2 linked regions of the Homo sapiens genome follow. The protein of the gene in region 1 interacts with the protein of each later gene in a pairwise test. Each region holds a gene or a part of one and is shown in the gene's direction. Other genes may lie near its edges. The genes, in order: UBE2U and KAT6A.

Region 1 (3,828 bases):
CACTTCTTTGAATACTTGAGAAGTAAACATTTCCCACCTTTGTTGATTCTTATTTTGTGACTCGTATGATACAATTGACAGTGCTATCACATTGTCCTAGATGTTGCAAATATTTCCTCTAATTTGTCATTAATTTTCAACTTTGTTTATGCTGTTTTTTCACATCTGGGATTTAGAGATTTTTATGATTTAAAATAAATTTATATTTAAGATCTATTAATCTTGTCCTTTGAGGCTTTTGCAGTTGTCTTTCATCTTAGATGATCCTTTCCCAAAAGAAAATCAAATAGTCATTTTAAGTTTCTTCTAGTCATTCTACAGTTTTATTTTTCTTATTTAACTCTATTATTTTTTCAAACACTAAATTACTTAACTGTGTTAGGGCATATGCCAAGCTCCTGTACATCTTTCCAACTTAACATAACAGGACAACGCTGGAGGGAGGTTGTGCCCATCCTCAATGTGAAGATTCCATTTCTGGGACTAAGGCATTTACTGTTTGTCACCATTTCCAGTCTGGGGGAAGGGGGAAGAAAAGAAGGAAAGCCAGCTTCCTTTAAAAAAAGACTCAGAAATTGCACACTTATCCTTATGTCCCACAACAAAAACTTAGTCACAAGGCCACATCTTGCTAAAGGAGAGGATAGGAAAAACTGTAGGGGCACCTATGTATTCAGCTAAAACAACATGGTAATGGGTGGGAACCAGGGATGGGTATAGTGCTTCTCAGTACAGAGAGAAGAACTAGGAAAAAGGAAGAGTAAATGCAGATAATTTTTCTGGCTTATCATTTTGATGTTTGTAAGTTTTAAATAATAATTTATTATAAATGCAAATATTAATGTATTATTTTAATACAGTAGACCCACACACTGGTCAGCCCTGTATAGACTTTTTGGACAACCCTGAGAAGTGGAATACAAACTATACATTGAGCAGCATCTTACTTGCCCTACAGGTAAGAATGGATTTCATATAATCCTCTCTTTAATACTTTTAATTACCCTAATTATTCAAACTACAAGGATTAAAATATACAATGCATATTTAAGTGTTTAAAGAATTTGAGAAGTTTATTTAAATCCATACTTCTATATGAAGGCTACAAAGTGGAACTTACTTAAATTATAAAAACTATTATTTAAAGTGAAATTGATAGTTAAGGCCCCTCAAGACCAAAGAATGCATATCTTATAAAAGAATAAAATAATTATTTAGATGGTTTCAATTCTGAAAATATAACCTTAGGTTTTCTTTTGGTTCCTAACTTCACTTCCTGATGTTGAGCAAGCCTTTTAGATCTTTCTTCATTTATGGACCTTGCCTTCCTGAGAGAGGTGGATCGAATGACTACAACTTAAAATGTTCACTTTTGTTTTTTGTTTCTGACAGTGCTAGTTAGCTACTTTCTGTCCCAATAGTGTTCACATCAAACCCAGTGAACAATTTATACCAAGGATTTTCTCCTCTCCTCAGATGCCTGTTTCTCAGATGCCACCTTTACCCACTGGACCCATGGTCCTTAGAAGCATACCTCAGTGTTGTGCTATTTCTTTTCTTTTCTTTTTTTCTTTTTGAGACAGGATCTTGCTCTGTCACCCAGGCTAGAGTGCAACGGCACAATCCTGGCTCACTGCAGCCTCAACCTCCTGGGCTCAAGTGATCCTCCCACCTCAGCCCCTCAAGTAGCTGGGACCACCGGCATGCCCTACCATGGATGGCTAATTTTTTAAATTTTCTGTAGAGACGGGGTCTCACTATGTTGCTCAGGTTGGCCTCAAACTCCTGGGCTCAAGCAATCCTCCCACCTCAGCCTCCCAAAATGCTGGAATTACAGGCAAGAGCCACCACATCCACCCAGTGTTGTGTTATTTCTGGTCCTTAAAAATGCCTCCTTTCTCATCTAATGCTAAAATGAATTATTTCAGTGAACTTGCTTTGACCTCTTAGAGCTAGCTTAGCAATAATCTATCCATGACCTACTTATCACCAATAATATCTGAAGATAAATAATTACATTTTGATTATCTAGAATACTTGGAATATAAAATACTCTGGCATAATTGAGTTTTTAAATATAGAATTATAATATAAATTGCATTTCTTCTATTTCTTGTATTTGAAAATAAATAAAATAATACTTTCCTGGCTAGTCATCTTAGCATACTAAGTAAAATATAATCTTTAGGAAAGATTCAATGTTCAGTTCATTCATTCATTCTACAAATATGTATTGAGGATCTACTTGTGTGAGGTTGTGTTCTAGGAAGGAGACATTTGAGCAAAAAATTTAAGGGAGTGAGTGAGTGTGATATGCAGAAATCTGGGGTTAATCCTTTGGATTCCTTTAAACTGAGACATATTCTGATCTCATCCACCTAAACTAGAGTCTGCCCTAAGAATAGCAAAATGATCCCAAAATGTAATGAGTAAGGGCAAACCAGAATGAACTGGTGAAAATTTTGAATTGCAGAATAATTTGATAAAAGGAAAATGTGGGGCTCTGAGTTAGCTTGCTTGGCTTCACATCCTGGTTCTGCCACTTGATACCTTTGTATCTATCATTGGACAAATTTTTCCACTTCTCAATGTCTCAATTTCTTCATCAGTAAAATGGGGCTGTTGTTACCTCATGTAACCTGTGAGGAGGAAATTAATTAATGTGTGTAAAGAATTCGGAACTGTGCCTGGTCCAAGAAAATAACTCAATAGTTAATACAGGTCGAGTATTTCTTATCTGAAATGCTTAGGAATTGGAAATTTTTCCAATTTTTGAATATTTGCATTACATATACTTACCATTTGAGCATCCCAAATTTGAAAATTTGAAATCTGAAATACTCCAGTGAGCATTTCCTTTGCACATCATGTCGGTCCTCAAAAAGTTTTGAATTCTGGGGTATTTAGGATTTCAGATTTTCAGATTTAGGATGCTGAACCTCTAGTTAGTTAACATTATGATTGTTCTTACTATTAAAGAGTAATGCAAAGTGACACCAAAGTGTTGCCAAATATATCATGGAAAGCCAGTAGATAACACAATTTTGTCTTTTTATTTTTCGAAAACATTAATAAAACAAATATGCCCACATTACAAAAGATTTTTAAGATAATGGGAAGGAAAAGAAAATCACTGACAATTATAAAGAAAACCCTTAACTTTACTGTTACTAGGAAAGAGCTTTCTGCTCTTTTCTCCTGTTTTTCAGTTTAAAATCTTTCAGTGGATCCCACCTTCTCCACAGGTGTAAGCTCTAGTTCTGTTGCATATCTAATCCTCACACCTAGACTCTCCCTAACACACCAGGCAATCCTGCTCATACTTATATCTTCATGCTTTTCTGCACTCACATTGCTTGGGTCAATTCAGATAAAAAAAACATTCATAGAGTTCTAAAGTTACCTTAGAAATGGTCAGTCTCCAGTTCCCCTCTGCCTGGCAACTCATTTTCTCCTCTTCTCTTCCTCAGTCTGTCCAGCAAGCAGTTGTTCATGTTGTTGTAAGAGTTGGAACAAATGAATCGTCCTCTAGGATACCTTTTCTGATTTATTTTCCTAGGGAGAATTAATAGCTTTGGTTTTGGGGGAGCTTCCTTTGCTACACACCCAACAGTACCCTGAGCAGATTTCTGTTAGAACACTAATACTATAAAGCACACACTGCTTACTTATCTGTCTTCCCCTATTGGACTGCAAGCTCCCCAAAATCAGGAAACAGGTCTAATTCATCCTTGATTTCCTGGAGCATACCAAAGACAATGCTGACATTTGGTAGATATTAAATAAAATGAATGAATGAATGAACCTGAATTTTTACATTATTGCTAT
Region 2 (3,828 bases), on another chromosome or scaffold:
TAATAGGCTCTGTCATTTTCTTTATGAATTATAAAGTTTAAGTACCGAATGCTGTATTAGAGAGGTGCATGCATCATGCACTAGGGGGCATTAAAGTCACATAGTACCTTTAGATTGTACTTTTTTCTTCCAGTTTGAGAATGTTGTCAACAGTGAGTCCTTGACTTTTTTCTTCTTGTGTTAAGTTAATAACAGATGGCCCATATGTGCAGTTGACTTGAGAACTGTCACCAATTGGTCTTTTCAGCCATACTTATAAAGAGAGCAAATGAGCCCAACAGCAGTGTCATCTTCAAATGCAAAGGATAATGATCTTCATAAGTCCCAAATACTCTCTTCACTAGTTTTTTGCCAACTTGAGGAAGTTCCATCATTTAGTAGATAATTATCATACGTTTTCATATTTACCCAGATGATTATCATCTGGGTAAATAGAGTTTGTGCTTTAAAAGGACAGTGTTTTAAAGTTTGTGCTTTAACTTTAAAAGGGCACCCAGAATGTGATGGGAGTTAGTACTGCTGACATCAGTTAAGGTAGCTACTCAAGAGGTTTTTTTGAACGTTGATGCATTAAACCTATACTAAAAGTGTCAAATTTATACTATTTCAAAATGAAATTTATATTCCTTATATCATTTTTCTGTCTGCCTTTCTGTGTATTAAAATGTAATCTTTAATGAAGTTTAAATTTAGTTATATAATATTTTTAGGAAGCTTTAAGACAATTCAGGATTTCCACTATAAGGCAGATTTAATACATAAATATTATTTATTGAGTAGCATTCTTCTAAGAGTCAGTTTAATGCTATATTCTTCGTTATATATTAAGTTCTTCAAATTGAAATAAAGACCTGAAATTTTTTCTAGTTCATGTATTAATCTGGGGACAGTTAACATGTGAGCTCTTTTTTTATATGTAGACAATCAGGATGGCTGGGATGGCAAACAAGAAAATGAGGAGCGACTTTTTGGGAGCCAGGAAATCATGACTGAGAAAGATATGGAATTATTTCGTGATATCCAAGAACAAGCACTGCAGGTAAAGTTGGATATTCAGGTTAGACAATCAAGCAACTTGTTCATGGCTGAGAAACAGCAGATTAATTACATTGTGGGTTAAGCAGTAACAGCAGTTTGCCTAATCTCAGAATAGTTGTGGTTTGTGTGTATATGTAGTTCTGCTGTTTATAATATTCCTTTCAAACCCATGATAACTGCTTTGGTTTTGCAGATAAGCACATGGCTTTGACTATCAATATTAAATAAGCTTGGTTTATTTTTTGTCTTACTGTATGAAGAAGAATTTGGGATTTGACCAAAAACAAACAAAAAACAAGCTTCTCATGAGTGATAAAACACCTATATTTATTAATTCAAGAAGTATTTCATGCCTGTAATCCTAGCACTTTGCCAAGGTGGGTGGATTGCTTGAGTCTGGGAGTTTGAGACCAGCTGGGGCAAAATGGCAAAACCCCATCTCAAAAAAAAAATAGAAAAATTAGCCAGGTATGTTGGTGCACACCTGTAGTCACAGCTATTTAGGAGGCTGAGGCAGGAGAATTGCTTGAGCTGGGGAAATGGAGGTTGCAGTGACCTGAGATCATGCCACTGTACTCCAGCCTGGGTGACAGAGTGAGACCCTGTCTTCCAAAAAAAAAAAAATTGCAATTCTTTGTGACACATGGCAAGATCGTAAATATATAGACAGAGTCTATGTGCCACATGCTGGAGATGCCAGTGAATGACTGAATTCTTTCCCTGAACTATAGGAGAGATTTGTGAATAAGTAATGTCATTAATATGAAAAGTTCAATTATAGAATACTTGATGTTTTGGGAGAATAGGGAAGCCAGCTTCTACTTCTGCCTGGGGAGGTCAGAGGAGGATTCATTGAGGGGCCTTAAAGGATATGTAGGAGTTGTACATATCCCTTAAAGGGATATGTAGGGAGTTGGTTCTTATATAATCAGAAGGAACAGAAGTGAAGGTGGAATAGACTTGAAGATAGGGGAAAACATGCTTAATTGTGGGAATTAAAATGGCTCAGGATAAAGAATATAGGGTGTGGAGAATGGCAGGAGGTGAGGTTGGAAAAGTGCAGGGGCTAGATCATAAAGGCTCTTCCAGATTATGTTCATTTATTTTTTGTCTTTTCCTTCTTTGCCACCAACAAATGTACCATGTAAGCCAAGTTCTCTTTTATCTTGAAAAGAAGAATTTCTAGGCTGGGCACGGTGGCTCACCCCTGTAATCCCAGCACATTGGGAGGCCGAGGCGGGTGGATCACTTGAGGTCAGGAATTCGAGACCAGCCTGGCCAGCATGGTGAAACCCCGTCTCTACTAAAAATACAAAAATTAGCCGGTGGCACACGCCTGTGGTCCCAGCTACTCGGGAGGCTGAGGCAGAAGAATCACTTGAATCCGGGAGGTGGAGGTTGCAGTGAGCCGAGATCGTGCCACACCACTCCAGCCTGGGCAACAGAGTGAGACTCCATCTCAAAAAAAAAAAAAAATTCTAAGGCTGATGCCGAGGGTTCTAGGGAAAACTCTTCATATTAAGAGACCCAGTGGTGGTGAATAGACTGTTGATGTCGGTCATTATGTGAGTACTTTTGGAAAAATAAAACAGCAGTACAAATACTCAGCACGCATTTACTCAGCATTCTGCTGTATTATGATTTAACAAAATATTGGCTTTGATTCAGGTGGATCTGGGTTCAAGTCTTGATCTGTCATTTACTAACTTCTCCTTTGGGCAGGTTGCCCTCAAAGCTTGTTTCCTTTCATGCTAGTGAGTTATTATAGGTACTCTAGTAGAAATCTACATGGACTTCAGTGGGAACTGAAAGGAGGCAGTAGTTATGTTCTTCCTGACTGAAAGAATTTTTTTTTCTCCTCCCGAGTAAGTTGCAGACATAATGTGTTAATATCCCTTTACTCCTAATTTTTTGTGTGTATTTCCTAAAAACAGAAATGTTCTCATACATGACCATGGTCCAATCATCAAATCAGGAATTTAACACAAATTAAGTACTATTATCTAATTTAGTTGTCACGTCTCTCTAGTCTCCTTCCAATTGGGAACAGTTCCTCAGTCTTTATCTTTCATGACCTTGACAGTTTTGAAGTGCACAGGTCATTTATAGAATGTCATCACTTTGAGCTTGTTTTATTTTTCATGATTAGAAAATTCCACAGGTGTGCTGTGTCCTCCTCAGTGTGTCACATCAGAAGGCATGTAATATCCAAGTTCTCATCACAAGTGCTGCTAACAGTGACCACCTGGTTTAGGTGGTATCCATGTTTCTTCTCTAACATTGCTTTCTACCTATAATTAAGTATCTTGGGGGGACATACTTTGAGACAGAAATGCAGATAACCTGTTTTTCATCAAACTTTTATCTACCACATTTAGCATCCAGAGATGATTTTTGCCTGAATCATTTACTTTGTTGGTGGCCAAACATTATTTTCTAATTCTATCATTTCTTTGCCATTTATTAATTGGCATTCTATTGTAAGGAGAAGCTTTTTCTTCTTCCTATTTGTTTATTCATTTTGTTTAAACTCATAGATTATTTTATGGTTATAATCCATTGCTATTAGTATTTATTTTGATGCTTAAATTGTTCCAAATTTAGGCAGAGGGGAACTCCTTTCTAGAAGCTCCTCTGTCCTTTTAACACATCATCATCATTTTTATTTACTTCTGGCCACAGCAAGATGTTCTAGGCTCTTACTGTTGTAGCCATAGATTCTGGCTTTTAGTGGTGAACAAGAGTAAATGGTAGCTCTATCCTGTACTTGCTTAGGCCCACAGAGATGTC

What was found.
Region 2: the proteins of UBE2U (region 1) and KAT6A interact in a two-hybrid assay, tested with the Homo sapiens proteins (one large-scale study listed by BioGRID and IntAct).

Annotation. Positions count from the first base shown.
Region 1 is NC_000001.11:64,209,882-64,213,709, forward strand, and holds part of UBE2U (ubiquitin-conjugating enzyme E2 U), read left to right. Parts: intron 1-860; coding exon 861-958; intron 959-3,828. UniProt on the Homo sapiens protein: Catalyzes the covalent attachment of ubiquitin to other proteins.
Region 2 is NC_000008.11:41,971,915-41,975,742, reverse strand, and holds part of KAT6A (histone acetyltransferase KAT6A), read left to right. Parts: intron 1-920; coding exon 921-1,039; intron 1,040-3,828. UniProt on the Homo sapiens protein: Histone acetyltransferase that acetylates lysine residues in histone H3 and histone H4 (in vitro). Component of the MOZ/MORF complex which has a histone H3 acetyltransferase activity. May act as a transcriptional coactivator for RUNX1 and RUNX2.